Regions from separate parts of the Homo sapiens genome. Here region 2 is linked to region 1. A link means that fine-mapping ties the variant in region 1 to the expression of a gene that starts in the linked region. Tissue or cell type: whole blood. Region 1 holds a variant in brackets; the other region holds the start of a gene. All regions are shown on one strand. Distances are from middle to middle. Region 1 overlaps MTERF3 (mitochondrial transcription termination factor 3). Region 2 holds the start of UQCRB (ubiquinol-cytochrome c reductase binding protein).

Region 1 (8,338 bases):
CTGCCATAATTGTGAGGCCTCCCCAGCCATATGGAACTGTAAGTCCATTAAACCTCTTCCTTTTGTAAATTGCCCAGTCTCGGGTATGTCTTTATCAGCAGTGTGAAAACAGAATAATACGCACACTCAATGAAGATGAGAAACAGATCCAGAATAAACTAAAAAATGTTATTATACAAACAATAATGCATTTCAAATCAAATAGATAGACTATTTGTTAAAATATATGGGACCATTAGCTATACTTTTGAAAAAAATTATCTTTATATCTTATACGGAAATTAATTCTAGATAAAGAATCTAAACATACATTAACTCTACTAGAAAAACAAAAAAAATTACGTTTAACTACAGAATAGTATAAAACCTAGTGTAGAAAAAGGTCTGGAAAGCTATTCCACAATTTGGTTAATAGTGGTTACCTTTGAGAAGTGGAACTGGGGACGAAGAGAGGGTAAGAGGTCCTTCTCTTATAATATCTGCACTTTTGACAACCGGATGTAATTCTTTTGTAATTTAAAAATAATATTAGTAGAAAAATAAATCCAATTATTAGATGGACAAATAAATAAGATGAAAACCAGTTCCAAAAATCTGTGATAAATGGGGGAGCGGATGCTCTAAAAATAACATAAAGGGTTCAGACTTCACATTTAACTAAATATTACAGCTGACATGAACTGAAGTGCTTTGCTCAGCATGAGCTGTCACACCCTGACTGTGCTCGAACAGAAATCCTGAAAAGCTGCTTTTTAACAGCAGTAGGAGAGCAGAATCTCATCAGGAATGCACACTGCTCTCAATGCAAATAACTTGGGCTCACTTCATTTCATTAACTTGAAAAAATATTCCCTGAATGCCCACTATGGACCAGGCACTTTTTTAGGTATTGGGGTTATAAAAAAAGAATAATACACGATTCTAACCTCTAGGTGACCAGTCTAGTTGGGCTTTACCTCATCAGTTCAGTAATTACGAATATTACCATTTTATTCAGTTATGGTTACACGTATTTAGTACATCAATCAGGGTCTAGCAGGCTATACAACGTGCCCTGGAAAGTACAAATGACAAGGACTTTAATGAAGGGACTCTATACAGCGGTGTGAGCAGCCTTAAGAGAACAAACAAGAGCCTTCCCAACAATAAAGAGACAAGGAGGCAAAATGTTACCACGGCGCAGAGGGACTAGAGGCTATTAAGGAAGGGCTGCTCAAGAGTGCTGTTGTCATGGAGTGAGGCAGGTACAGGACCCAAAGAAGGGAAGGAACGGGAAAAATATCCCCACCTGACCCTTCTACCTTCTGTCCTGTAGGTGCCTCCCACTGGCTGAAGCTGCCAAGAAGCCAGCTGGCATAGGAGCCCTGGTGCATAGGGGTTGGCCTCCTGGGATACAGATCGGGCAGAAAACAGGTCTCAGAAGCAAACAGAGAAAAAACTAGGACTTGGGTACTCAAAAATACTGTCTGACAGAGCAAATAAGGCTCCCCTAAGTTACTATTATTTAAGTTACTTCTAAGACATGCTGTTGAAGTATCAGCATACAGGTAAAGGAATGGCTGAAACATATTCCAAACCTGTAAGTATACTGTAAATTATTTAAAGATAAGGACTAGGCCAGGCACGGTGGCTCATGCCTGTTATCCCAGCACTTTGGAAAGCCGAGGTGGGAGGAAAGCTTGAGCCCAAGAGTTTGAGACCAGCCTGGGCAACACAGTGAGACCTCCCTCTATTTAAAAAAAAAAAAAAAAAAATTAGCCCAGATGGCATGTGCCTATAGTCCCAGCTACTTGCGGGGCTGAGGTGGGAGGATCACTTGAGCCCAGGAGGTCAAGGCTGCAATGAGACAAGACTGTGTCACTGCACTCCAGCCTGGGTGACAGAGCAAGACCCTGTGTCAAAAAAAAGATAAGACAGGGACTGTGTCTTAGGTTTTATCTTGTATCATCCATAGCACCTGCCATAAGACAGGGAAAGCTGTTTCGAAAGGAAAAGTGACTGTCTCCTCACAGCAGACATCATCTTTTTCCTGCCTCTGAATGTACACTTTTTAAATTATATGTTTATGGGATACAACATGCTGTTTTGACATTTGTATACATAGTGGAACGATTAAATCAAGCTAATTAACATATTCATTACCTTACATATTCATGACTTTTTTTTGTGGTGAGAACACTTAAAATCTACTCTCTTAACAATTTTCAAGTATACATTATTATTAACTACCATCATCATGCTGGACAATAGATCTCCAAAACTTATGCCACCTGTCTAATTGAAACTTTGTACCCTTTGCCCAACAACTCCCCATTCCTCCCCACCCCACTCCCCAGCTCCCTCTGCTCCTATGAGTTCAACTTTTTTAGCTTTCATATATAAGTGAGATCACGTAGCATTAGTCATTCTGTGCTTATTTCACTTAGCATAGCATCCTCCAGGTTCATCCGTGTTGTTGCAAATAACAGGATCTCCTTTTTCAAGGCTGACTAGTACTCCAGTGTATAAATATACCACATTTTCTTTAGCCATTCATCCACTGATGGACACTTAGGCTGATTCACAGAACACTTTATTTGCCTCTCATGTGGGACTTATCACTTTGCTCTTCATCCTTGCATTCCAGTTATTCTTATATATTTAGATGTTTCTGAGGACTTGAAGCTTCTTGAGAACAAAGGCCATTCTAAACATATGGGTAACATATGGGTAACTGGGCACAGACAGATGAGTATACAATTATAATAGAGTGTCATTAATGCTAGGATCCAAGTAAGCAGGGAGTGAAATGAGAGCCTGAAGAGGGTCACTCTGTCTGCAGGGTCAAGAAGACACTTTAGAAGTTACTTGGACTTCAGTGATGTTCTCCAGTTGTTGGAGTTGGCTAAACAAAGGAGGGAAGTGGCAAGCCATGAAGCTGAACAGGTAAGCAGAAGCCAAATCAGGAAAAGCTTTGATGCCATGGGAAGGTTTTGAAGGATTTTAAATAGGTCACTGACTTAGATCTGCATTTCAGAAAGAGCACTAACACTGGAAAGATATCAGAGCCAATACTGCTGAGGAGAAGACTATCAAGATAGGAGGCTCCTGCAGCCACTCAGTGACAAATGAGGACCTAAACAAGGTAGTGACTGTAGGATGAGAGAAGTGGATGGATTTGAAAGAAATAGAGAGGGTAGAATCCATAGGATAAGCTATTAAATTAGATGTAAAGAGGAAGGGGACAAAAGCAATAAGAATCAAGGATAGGCCGAGTGCGGTGGCTCATGCCTATAATCTCAGTACTTTGGGAGGCCGAGGTGGACAGATCCCTTGAGGCCAAGAGTTCAAGATCAGCCTGGCCAACAGGGTGAAACCTCGTCTCTACTAAAAATACAAAAAATAGCCAGGCATGGTGGCACGTGCTTGTAATCTCAGCTACCAGGGAGGCTGAGGCAGGAGAATCACTTGAACCTGGGAGGCAGGTTGCAGTGAGCTGAGATGGTACCACTGTACTCCAGCCTGGGAGACAGAGTGAGACCCAGTCTGAAGAAAAAAAAAAAAAAAAAAATCAAGGATGACCCCCAAAGTTTCTAACAGAGCACAGATTTTTCTCTTTTTCCTCTCCTGTTAAAAATCACCTCCCAAAAATATGGGGAATGACAAACAAAAAATGAGATCCTTCTTTGAGGAAACGAGATTATATCCCCACATATCTGAAAACATCTGAAAACAGATGAAAGCATGGCAACAGCCTTATCGGAGAGGAGAAAGACGACACTGAAATGCCTGCAAATGAGAATCTGGCAAGTGGTAAGTGATCAGTACCACAAAAAACTCAAAAGTCTCCAAAATTGGAGTCCCTAGAAATCTGAGAGATTAGAGGTGAGGTACAGACTAAAAACTGGGGTATTGGGTATGGAGAGACCCGACCTCCCCCAAATCCAGTTCCTCTCAATGCACTAGGAGAAAGGAGATTCATTATCTGGGAAAATCAAGTATGAGAAGTACCAAACCCAGAGAAATGAGGAAAGCAAAAGTTTGTAATAAAATGCCAGACTAAAAATAAGATGACTAAATGAAAGTTTGGACGGAGATCCCCTGGCTCCCTTAAGCTATCCAGATCCAAGTGCAACCTAATGGTCAACAA[G/A]TGAAGGCAGCTATAGAGTAGGCCTAGAAACCATTCAAATCAGGAGGACAGTGGCTTCAGGAAGGAGGTCGGGGTAGTGTGACAAGCAGGGAACAATCCACTCTGGAGAAATGAAATACATCATCTGATAGGGTTACCTGGGAAAAACTGTCCTGAGAGGCTACTGGAAGGTATGGAAAAGTTTAACCCCAGAAACAAACAAACAAACAAAACAATTCATCAAATGAAGAACAAGGCAACTATTACTGCCGGAAAAATGAAAAGTTGTACAGGAAGGTAAATAATGATAGCATACTTCTTGTTAGGGCAGATAGCAATATTTATAGTCATAATTTAACTACTGACTAATGATTTATCTAAAATTGTAATTTATATTAGGAGAATTGAAAAGAATACAGGAAAAGTACATGTGTACATACAAGAGATCAAATGATGTCTAAAACTGATGAACCAAACAACAGCACTACAAACAACTATTTTAAAATGAGGAGGTTGAACACAAACAGAAAGAATGATACAAGTTAAGTAGATGCATCTGGGGAATAGGATGCAAGATCACCAAGGATGAGGCAGGGAATACGGTTTCTCACTAGAAGCCTTTATGCTATTAGACTTTTGCTTATGTTTGTATACTACTTAGTATAGATTAAATTGTTAATTTAAAAAAGTAAAAAAAGTAATGAAGAGTACATGCAAAAAGTACTTGTAGTTTAGTCAAACTTACCTAGAAGAACCAACTTCTGCAGAGTCTCAGAATGATCCACATAGTCTCGAAGTGTGAATGAAGCTGGTGGCAATGGAGGGTCTGCAATAATCTGAATAGCCTCTTCCTCTGAAATTGGCTGCATTGGAGACAATGGAGGCAATTCATCCAGTTCTTTGAAAGAGAGAAACAAATTAGTGCTCTAATATGCACACTTAAAACTATTTCTGCAAAGACCAGCTCTTCCCTTGTTTGCTTCTTTCAGTGGTTAAATCTTGGGATCATTTTAGAATTAAACATCCAAGTCCCTAATTTTTCACCTTTTAAGAGGTAAGGTTACAACTATTTAGACAGACTAACTACTGTTCCTCTGAGATTAGAAATTTGTTGGTAAATTTCAAAGCACACAATGCCTTTCCTTCACTTAATCAGTAGGTGAGAATGCTAAAAATCACCTAACTTTCAAGTGAATTTTGAAACAGAGATTGAGTTTACCATAGCCTGTTAACTTGGCTAAAAGTACACATATGCCAACAGTCTGAATTGCATGGATTAAAGTAATCATATCCCGAAAGTCTTTGTTTTGACCCAATGCCCTCCCTTCCAAGTTACCCTCAAATACATCTTTAAAAGGGCTTCTATGATTGTTTCTACAACCTGCAGTCCTCTCTACAGGAGATGTGACTCTCTAGTACAGCCCTGATTCTGAAGTTGTTTTTGTTTTTTTAAAATCAAACGCAGCATGGAAGACACTTAGAACTACACATTACCTTAAGCTAAGGAATCAGGTCTGTGATCTTTTGTTCTGTTTTGTGCTTCTCATCATTAACTATCCTTTCTCATCATTTATAGCCAGCATCTCCTCCCTGCCCTCTCCCCAGCTCTCTTTCCTTCATATTCTACTTAACCTTATATCATTTCATTACCAGCGAAATATTCCTAGAATAGGACCCATAGGAAGGAGAGGATTGACTAAAAAGCGACCATGAGGGAACTCTGTGGAGTTAATATAATTGTTTTATTTGTTGATTGCAGTAGTTCTTACACACTAAATGCATATGTCAAAATTCATAGAACTATATATCCCACAAGATGAATTTTACTTGATATAATTATACCCTAATAAAACTAATTACCACTAGAAGAATTTTGTTTTAAGAATCTAAACAATAAAATATTTAAAAAGCAAATGTTTTATATGTGTAGCTATAAAATAATCTTACACGTTAGCCCACAAACTTTTTTTCTTACCAGTAAAATAAAGGCATGATAGAAGTTCATCAATAGAACTGGTATTATTCTTTTTCTTTCTTGGCACAAAATATTACCTGAAATGGGCTAGCAGAAGGTAAACAGGTAGCTTGTTCAAATGGCCAAAGTAGGGAAAGGGAGACTTTTCTGAAAGTTCAGAATTACCTTCTAGAAACAGCTCAGAATCAAAGCTGGATATATTTTGTGTCTTCTGTGACTGTTCATTCATGGAAGGAAGCAGACTGCTTTGGGCAGAATTATTCTCCTGACTACTTGAGCTAGTAGACTGGGAACTATTCCATAAGGAGGAAGTCCTGTAAGTCTTAAATCCCCACTGGAGAAAGCAATTGTCAGAGGATATCTGAGGCTGAGCAGAAAAGCCATGTAACAGTGTTCTTGCTGGTCTAGTAAAACGTTTTGTGAGTTGTGCAGCATTAATGAGGCTCCTCAACTTAACTGAGTTAAACCATCTGGGTATCTGTTGGGCTGACAAAGCCATTTTTCTTAGTCTACAAAGGAAAGATATAACCGTCAAAAGAAGAGAAATTTAATTTACTTAAATGTTTAAAACGGTATTCAAACAACAAAAAGATAAACTGGAAATTATTTTTTTCTAATTGAAAGGTGTTTAAATATATATTTAGTCTAAAATAGTGAGATGTTTCTTATGTACAGGAAAAGCCAACAACAAGGCAATCTCAGTTACAAACCAACAGACAGGAACTTCTGAGTGGAAAAATAAAGATATACTTTACAATTTAAAAACAAAATGCAATGACACTGGTGTAAGAAAAATGCTTAAAACAAAAATCTGCAAATGTTCAAGTGACAGCAGACCTCACTAATCTGTTAATTTAATCATTTAAAGAGAATAAGCTGATGCAAATAAGTGTTCTTGAAATTTGGTGTGAAGGGTGTTTCCGCAGCACATTGCTGATCAAAGTAACACTGAATTATTCAAATGCATTTTATGTATATAAATTTGTCCCAAAATGAAAAAACAGAAATCTACTGTGTCCTAAACAAATCATCAAAATATTATCATTGATATACAGAACAGTGAAAGCAGTTTCTTGCTTCATTCTCAGGGCTGAACACTGTTGATTACTTCACAGATAAAGCTGTTCTTCCAAAGGGAATTGAACAAAACCAGTTTTGTCAAGTTTTGTTTCACTGTAGGAAAGGAGAAAAAAGCCTTCAAAAAGAAAAGGTCAAAACTAGTAACAAAACCAAGTGACAGAAATAAATAAGCAACCAGCAATTAATACCTGTATATTTTGACTGAAAAAGTAGTTTTCAAAAATATTTTTATCAGGAAAGGCTAGTGCTATGTTAAACTCCAGGAATATGAAGGGATTTTATATTTAGCCAGCTAATTAGAAAGGTAAATTTGATGCATATAATCTTACGTTAAATAACATTATCCATATAAAACACAGGATGGAGTCAGGATATAAGAAATGCTCAATAAATGTTAGCCATTATTATTGGTTACACAACCAAATACAAAAATTCTGCTGAATTAATTGCTGCCTACAACTTTATACTTTGTTTTTCTGCATACTGGAATTCAGCTTGTTTTATGCTCTAAATTAGACCAAATACTTGAGGGTCTAATCTTTTCTTGGAGATCTGTAGTTTTGGGAAGTTTGCTGAAAGAGATTTTACAAAAGTGAAAGTTTCCTTTCATTCTGCAATTATTTATTATTATTATTATTATTATTTTTTTTGAGACGGAGTTTCGCCCTTGTTGCCCAGGCTGGAGTACAACGGCACCATCTTGGCTCACTGCAACCTCTGCCTCCCAGGTTCAAGTGATTCTCCTGCCTCAGCCTCCCGAGTAGCTGGGATTACCCACGCCCGCTACTATGCCCGGCTAATTTTTTGTGTTTTTAGTAGAGACGGGGTTTCACCATCTTGGCCAGGCTGGCCTCGAACTCCTTACCTCAGGTGATCCACCCAGCTTCCCAAAGTGCTGGGATTACAGGCGTGAGCCACTGCGCTCGGCCCATTCTGCGATGATTTTAGAAAAGAAGTAAGTATTCACAATACCCTGCTGGGATAGGTGGTTTCTGTTAGATTTTGGTGGGAAATGGGACTCCAAATGTGCCAAGTTTTCCCTCAAACCTACAACATTCATTCTCTGCACGGTAGTCATAAGGGCACTAAATTGAAAGTCAGAAGACCTCGGTTGTGCTACCTTGACAAGGCTGTTTCTGGCAGCAGTCTAACAAAAGCAGCAGTCTAGCCCATGA
Region 2 (8,338 bases), 21 kb before region 1:
ATACCCCCTTCTTTTATTCAGTAGCTTCCATAAGGATGTAACTTACGGAAGTTATATCCTTCCATAAACTGATAGGCTATCCAACCAGTGAGGAAAACTGATAAAGTGGCTTCTGAGCTCCAAGTAGCAGTTAAACACAACTAAATATATCTTGAAAGTTTGGAAAAAAATTTAACAGTAAAGGGATTCAGTAGTTATTCAGTATAAGGTTTGGAATTCAAAAACTCCAGCCATTACAATAGACATTTATTTAAAGTAAAACATCTTCAGACCAAATAATTCTTAAAATTGTTTGTTTCAAGTTTAACCATCTTCATAACAGCTGCATCCACAGACTTCAACTACATGATTACTTCTTTGCCCATTCTTCTCTTTCTTTTCTTTCCCGAATAACCTCTTTCAGATACGGTTCAAGGTAGAAATTTTCCTAAAGAATGAATGAAATATTATATGTTACCATCACGTACTGATATATCCCAAACACTCAACAGGTCTTCAATAACAAGAAAAAAGCAATTACTTTTGAATTTCCAATTTTAGAAAACATATTCTCAACCTAAGAACTATCTGCTTTTTAAAATGTCAAATCTGTGGTGATGGTGTGATAAGTTGCTTTGATAGGTTATGAGGGGGAAGTCTTTTCGGGAAGAAAAAGAAATGAATGTCCACAGGCCTTTGCCTAGTTTCAATGCAGTTCAAGGGGTGAGAGTTTGCTTCACAGAAGCTCTTCTTGGGATCTGGAGGGACACTCAATGGGCTGATCTTTTCATCTAAGTAGGAAGCAGAGTGCAGAGCTGGAACAGCAAAGACCTGGGAGGCAACAGACCTGGATTTTAGTCCTGGCTCTCTATATTAGAGACTTGCTTAGTAATTTCAGAAGAATCATTTCACACGTAAGACTCAATGTGGTTTTCTTCTAAAACGGAAATAACATTTGCTTTATTAACCTCACATATTTATTTGACATGACTCAGAGAACTCTAACACTATGCAAATGAACATGTTTCTCTTGTTTCTAAAACTCCATCCTTAATGAGCAACACTGTCAGGTAGATAAAGCTGTGCTACCTCTTCATATTTGGTCCACTGCTCTTTAGGCAAGATCTGATGCTTCAAGTTCAGGTCCAGTGCCCTCTTAATGCGAAACATCCTGTCATTATAAAGGTTCTCAGGAAGTCTTCTTATGGCTTCTTTTACATCTTCATCCTCGTATATTGTATCATCTCGCATTAACCCTATGATAGATGACAAAGTTAGATTGCACATGCATCTCAAAAATCGCGGTTTTTTTAAATTAGTAAAATACCTTTATGACTTATAACTTACAACTTTTGGTGAACTATCGAATTCAAATCACTAGGTTCAATGGAAATTCAATGCATTTCATACATTATAGGTTGGTGCAAAAGTAATTGCAGTTTTGCCATTAAAAGTAATGAGTTATTACTTGATATAATGGGTTACTTCTTGAACTAGACTATGGAAACAATATATGAGCCTCTTAAAATCCAATGCCACAAAATTCATATTTTATCTAAACCATTTACAAAATATTTTAAATGTTTACTTTGTTTTTAAACACACATTAATAAACCACATCTCTTTTTTCTCATAGTTTAAATCTGAGATCAAGGTATTAAAGAATCTTAAAATGATAGTATACTAAGGAACAGTGACTTTTGCTTACACTTTCTTCAAGCTTCAATAGTAAAAGATGAAGTTCATGGTAAATTACAAAGTTCTAAAAAAGCTTAGGAATCATATGATTGCATGGACGTGATAAAATTTTAATATTCAAAAACTCTCTACTTTCAATGTTTATATAATTTAAATTAAAATTTTAAGTGGAAGGCCGGGCGCAGTAGTGCACACCTATAATCCCAGCACTTTGGGAGGCCGAGGCAGGTGGATCACCTGAGGTCAGGAGTTTGCGACCAGCCTAATATGGTGAAACCCCGTCTCTACTACATACAAAAAAAATTAGCCAGGCGTGGTGGCACACGCCTGTAATCCCAGCTACTCAGGAGGCTGAGGCAGGAGAATCACTTGAACTCGGGAGGCGGAGGTTGCAGTGAACCGTGATTGCGCCACTGCACTCCAGCCTGGTGACAGAGCAAGACTCTGTCTCAAATAAATAAATAAATAAATAAATAAAATTTTAAGTGGAAGAGTTGGGAAAGGGGGTGTAGAAGGAAAATGTCTTACTACTTAAATCATTACCAAGTCGAACATTTTAGAGGCTTTCATCCCTCTTCTCTCAAAAAAACTTTAAAAAGGAACTGGATTTAACATAATGTGATTTAATTTTAAAATCTTCTGATGTATACAAGAACTGAAATGGTTTTTGGAACCACAGTAACACTTGCAAAAGCAATACTCTCAGAAAAACAAAAAAAAAAACAAAGAAACAACAACAACAACAAAAAACATTAAACAGCACAGCTGCTTACCCAGTTTATTGAATCCTGCAGCATTGTAATACCATTTTCGAATACCATCCAGCCACTTGCCTGATGCTGAAACTGATAATTGTCACACTGTTAATTGCTACAATTTAATTATACTATATGAACACATTGATAGGCAAGCAACCAGTACTCAGTTATCTTGCTGATGAATGCAAACATAGAAATAAATTTCCTTTTAAAAGTATATAGTATATACAGCAAGAATTTAATCAAAAGAATTAGATTTAAAAGAAAAAAGTTTATACTCTATAAAATGTTGATAAAAAGTGCTTATTTTATTTATGAGCAAAAGTGGTTGCAGGAAAATGGTGGCAAGTCATGAAAGAAAAGGGTAAACTCAAACACTGAATGTACAAAAGATCCATAGGTACATCGTGTGCCCTTATGCCTGCCCTGTTACCTTCAGAAATGAAGGGGTGGGAGATAGGAAAAGGACTTGGAAATTTCCATCATTTGTAGTTTCATAAATAGATCACAGGAAATAATTGTAAACTTTTCATTTCAAGAGAGCTGGAGTTGTAGGGAAAAGACAGTGAGATTTCAGCATAGACTGGCAGGTCTAAATGACCCTCATCCTCTAAAATTTTTACTCGATATTACAGTTATTTCATTTGGCCACATTCTTTAAAAATGTATGTATTTTGGGGAGGATTTTGATACCATTAGTCATTTAAACATTAATATGGATTCGTAAAAGAAGTCCATTTACCTCCTCCTAAGCAACTAAGTTCCCCCCAAGGGAATGGATATTGAAAAAGGATGAGAAATAGGTAATTTTAAAACTGTTTGGGGAACAGGGCTGAGCCTGATGAAGTAACCCAGCAGGGTCCAAGTACAGCAGGACCGTATCTGACATTTTAGGAGAGACATTTTACAAAAGGAGAGGTAGAACAGGTTTGTATTCTCTTTTAAAATTTTGTCTAGGGTTAGCCCTTACCAAGGAAGGAAAGCAAACTCTCCTTTCACTCAACTCTCCTTGCTTGCAAACTCAGTGCACTACAGATTACGTGGCTTTAGCAAATCTCCTTGGAAATTAAGAGTCATGTATAAAACTGCTGCTAGAAAAACAAGTATCAGTCAACAATCTACAAACATACTTGTGGAAGACAGATTATATTCAACCACCTATCAGTGACTATAATAATATTCACTAAGCACTTATTGTGCACCAAACACTTTCCTATTTGCTTTACCAACATTAGCTGATTTATTTACATGTCTGTTACTACAGAAGGGGAAGCTGGCTTACAGAAGTGATCCCACCCAAGGTCAGAGTTAGCTAATGGGAGTTGAGATCTGGTCTATGTAGTTCCCAAACACGCACAGAAGCAGTGTCTTGAATTTAGTAAGACTCCTTCAATATCTGCCAAATTAATAAAATAATTATTTAAAAAGTCTCCCCCACCCCCAAAAAGCTCAATGTCAATTAGGTTAACGGATGTTTCTGGCAACCTGATGTTTCCTAACAGCTTCACAATTGCTGGGGGCGGGGAGAAAAGGATCAACATTTTTTAAGCTACTCCAACTTGGTTGCATTGCAGTGAGACGAGATTGTGCCATTGCACTCCAGCCTGGGCGACAAAGCAAGACTCCGTCTCAAAGACAAAACAAACAAACAAACAAAACGGCTACTCCAACTTGTACCGCCAGAGGGCAGAGATTAGCAAAAAAAAAAAAAAAGAAAGAAAAAAGAAAAAAAGAACCTACAATAAATTCAAATTTCTCCAAACCTACTGATCAAGCTGACGCTCTAGATAATCCAAGGTCAACCTGAAGCGTCGCTCGTATCCCTTGCTCAACTGTCTCTGATTCGCAGTTTGAGAAGCGCGAGGGGTGCAATGATATTTCCAATTCTACTTCCTTGGGTCACTTTGCCTCAGTTATCTTATCAGCGTAAAAGGGAAATTAATATCTCCCTCGTCGCAATGGCAAGAAAATTTATAGGGCCAATGCACACGATAGAGCACTTGGGTCATAGAAAGCACTGAGCTCATTCGGGTTGAAAGTCATCCACTAGTTATCCTCTTGTGCCCTTTAACTTTTCTAAGGCCAAGGGGAAGGACTTCCAAGCACGGGCAGCTGGAACTCCAGGGCTGTCAGAGCCACCGCGGGCACCTTCACAAACAGCGGGTTAACATCCCAACCCTATACAGGCAAGCCCGCCCTGGGGACAGCAAACGAGTGGGGAAGCACATCCTTTTCACTGGACTGAAGCAGCCAATTTCCCTTCCGCGACAAACTTGGCCACTTACAAAGAAGAGAGAAAACGGAGCAAGCTGCAGCAAAAATAAACGGTGAAGCGCGACGATGCCGGCCAAGAAGACCCCCAGTTACTTACCGGCCTGCTTACCAGCCATTTTGACCAGAAAGAGAAGCGTTGCCTTCTGGGTAAGTCATAGAGGACAAGCTGGGCCCAGTCCGCAGGCGCGTTACGTCACATCGCGAACAGAGAAAGGCCGCTTGCGCAGGCGCAGTTCTGACGACTGCCGTTCAGCACCTGCGTAAGCACCTCTCGGCCAGGGTGAGGCCAATGGAGTAGGCGGGGCATTTTGCGTGCTACATTCTAAGAAGTATTGGTTGTGATGTGATGGGAAGAACACAGGTCAGGAATTAGGAGACCAAGGCTTAAAGCTGGGTTCTGTTATTTGCTGTTAATAGCTATGGGAGCGTGGACAGTATTAATTCAGCTCTTTGTGCCAGGCAGGAAGCTAAATGTTTTAAGGGCATCGTCTTACTTTCTATTGAAGGACTGATGGATGTGCCATCCCAAAAATATATGGAATTGGTACATTGATTATTTCGAGTTGAAAATATTGGAGAAATTGTAGTTTCAGAAAAGGTTTGATGACCTATCTCTTCCTGCATGCAGCAAGCCATAAAGCTTCCTCCAGGATTCCTCTGGAGTACCCGTCCCTTACCAGAGGGAGAAAATAGCACCTATCACCAGAGACGAAACTGGGGGCTGCTTTGGACCTGAATATACTTTCCGAAGTAACCGTTATCTTCCACTAAGTTTACACCCCAACACACACACTTTTCTCCTAATGACTCCGCGAGAAATTTACTGCCCCTAGCCAGATCCCCTTTCTTCTGATTTGTAGTTCGTGTAAAAAGTATAAAGGCATCTTACATTGGCCACTTCACTCTTTTGTGCGGATCCCCATGTACATGTAAAACTAGTAAAATTAGTATGCTTTTCTCTTGTTAATCTGCCATGTGTCAATTTGGTTCCTAGATTCAACCAAAGAGCCCACATAAGAGCAAAGGGGAGGGAGGGTTGGAGGTGATCTCTCACTCCCCTAAACTATCTTTTAATTCTAAAAGTACTGTAATTATCTCATTGTAGAGAGGAGAAAGCTGAGGCTCAGAAAGGTTGAATAACTTGTCCAAGAGCACATGACTAGAAGAGTCCAGGTTCTTCTTCCAGAATCTGAAAATCCAGATGCAAATTTGGGGCTCCTTAATTCTAGGGTCATATGCTATACTGCTACACTACTAATCCAGGAAAGACACCAAGCCTTTCAGGCCTTGGGTTTCTCCAGCTGAAGATCTATATCTAGCTATTTTAGTGGAAGGTTAGGTCAGAAAAGGTTTTGGGTTTTTTTTGTTTGTTTTTTTTCACCCTTTTTTTTGTTGTTCAGCCTCTGTCACCCAGGCTGAATGGCACAATCTCGGCTCACTGCAACCTCTGCCTCCTGGGTTCAAATGACTCGTGCCTCAGCCTCCTGAGTAGCTGGGACTACAGGTGTACACACTACCATGCCCGCTAATTTTTGTATTTTTAGTAGAGACGGGGTTTCACCGTGTTGGCCAGGCTGGTATCAAACTCTTGACCTCAAGTGATCCACCCACGTCAGCCTCCCAAAATGCTGGGTTACCCGCGTGAGCCATCATGCCCAGCAGAAAAGGTTTTTAAAGATTAAATCTAAGATGTATTGCAGAATTTGCACACAATTTTAAGACAAAAGAGAAGTATATAGATTTTCTCACTTTTAAGGTCTCAACCCCAACATGCGAAGTCTTAGGCATAAACATCTAGAGACAGAAAACAATTAGGGGGAGCTAGCATGACTGATAGTTACTGGTGAACTTCTACCATTACTCAGTGATATCTTTTTTTTCCCCTCAGTTTTAAGCTCAGAGCTGGGACAATATAGAGTAGAACCTTGTCTCATCCTAAGTTCAAAAGGTTAGATTTAACGATCTTAGTCACATTCCAGTTCTAAAATTATATTGATTTTCCTTTTTCTTCTATCTCCATGCTGTCACAATTTCTTCATTAGTCAGTCCTGTATACAGCACTAAAGCTGATGAATGATCTATCTTACACTAGCCAAAGTGAAGTCTGAAAGATGTGAAGAAATGCAGTACATTTGTACATTGGCACATTGCCCTGCAGAGGGTAGGTACTCAATAAACTCTCCTCCCTTCCACCCTTTAAGTTTTAGCTTGCTGGTTACAGGTGAAGGTGGCAAGAAAAGACATATCAAAAGATCTGAAACCCAAAATTGTCACAAAATCCAGCTCCTAAGGAATTAAGCTAGAGAGACTGAATGTTTGCTGGTAGTGATTGTTGATTCAAAAACTATTTTTGGTTTTCTTTCCTCCCAGCACAGGATTAGGGATTGCCTCTCTGCCCTATTAAAGTTAGGCATGGCCATGTGATACTTTGGCCAAGAAAAATGTGATAACTTTTTAAGAGCAATTCTTCACATTCCTTTCCTTTTCCATAGACTGGCAACACTCCAGAAATGATGGAGACAGGATACATCAACCTGTATCACTGAAGATGATGTGGAGCAGAGCCTTTGTGGTCCTAAGAAACATGTATAAGATAAAAACTTTTGTGGTTTTTCAATCATTTGAGGTTTTAGGATTGTTCATTGTATCAACACAACTTGCCTATTCTGACTGCTAAGGTTGTTCACTGGGTTATTCATAAAGGCAAAATGAGGTTGTGAGCCACAGAAAGAGAGGACAGGATGGTTCCATGGTGTCCCCAGCTTATTTTTTATTGTTTCCTGTTTATTGATCTCATCCATTGGAGAACTCCATGAAAGCACATATCTATGCCACACTCACCACTGTATTATAGAACTCAAATGTCGGTTGCATGAATAAAATATGTAACAGGAAGGCCACTATACCTGGCCCTGACCAATTACAAATTTAGTTTTTCATGAGGTTTTTTAAAGGGCATCCAGCACACCACAGAACCCTGTGCACAACAAACTACCCCCAAAGTTAGCGGCTTAAAACACTTTCTCCCAATTCTGAATTCCGCTGGGTCGTTCTGCTTAGTGTAGTATCTACTAAGTCTGGGACATCCCAGATAATTTCTTCATGCATGTCTGGTGCTCAGTTGGCATGTCTGAAAAAGCTGGGTTTGGCCAGACATCTTTCTGTCCACCTAGTTTCTCCAGCAGAGTAACCAGACCTCTCTACACAGTAGCTTAGGGTGCCAAGAGCAAATGTTCCAAGAGGGCAAGCCCTGATGTGCAAATCCTTAAGCCTCTGCTTGACAAATGTCCTCTGGGCCAAATCACATCGGCCCAGAGTCAGTGTGGGAGAGGACTAACTACACAAGAGTGCAAATACCAGGTATGGTTCATGGGGGCCCCCAGTGTTAACAGTCTACCCAATCTGGTGATCATAAGGCAGACAACTGAAGTCATGATGCTTCGTTTTACAAATAAAAAAGCAAAGGCTCAGAAATGAAATCACTTGCCCAGGATAACACATGTTGTAAATGGAAAACAAATATTTGTTTACTGGTAATAAGTCAAAGGCTAGTTAAGCCTTTCACTATATCTCATTGCCCCTAATCTTTAAACTCCACTTTCCTTTTCCTTATTCTTAGCCAACTGTGA

Evidence for each region. PIP is the estimated chance that this variant, and not a neighbour inherited with it, causes the effect.
Region 2: it holds the start of UQCRB, and the variant in region 1 is fine-mapped to the expression of UQCRB in whole blood (TOPMed, PIP 0.97).

Annotation. Positions count from the first base shown.
Region 1 is chr8:96,252,109-96,260,446 of GRCh38, forward strand. It overlaps MTERF3 (mitochondrial transcription termination factor 3), which reads right to left. Exons shown (of 8, transcript NM_015942.5): 2 at 6,249-6,592; 3 at 4,854-5,006. The coding sequence starts at 6,582. Among named protein-coding and RNA genes, the nearest start is that of MTERF3, 5.3 kb to the right of the region's middle. RefSeq lists an enhancer at 8,255-8,338. The variant G/A (reference allele first, on the strand shown) is at 4,130.
Region 2 is chr8:96,230,706-96,239,043 of GRCh38, forward strand. It overlaps UQCRB (ubiquinol-cytochrome c reductase binding protein), which reads right to left and starts at 4,840. Exons shown (of 4, transcript NM_006294.5): 1 at 4,807-4,840; 2 at 2,451-2,522; 3 at 1,069-1,235; 4 at 1-427. The coding sequence starts at 4,825. The coding sequence ends at 350. UQCRB-AS1 (UQCRB antisense RNA 1) reads left to right here and starts at 4,588. Exons shown (of 2, transcript NR_183275.1): 1 at 4,588-4,856; 2 at 7,202-8,338. RefSeq lists an enhancer at 4,567-4,846.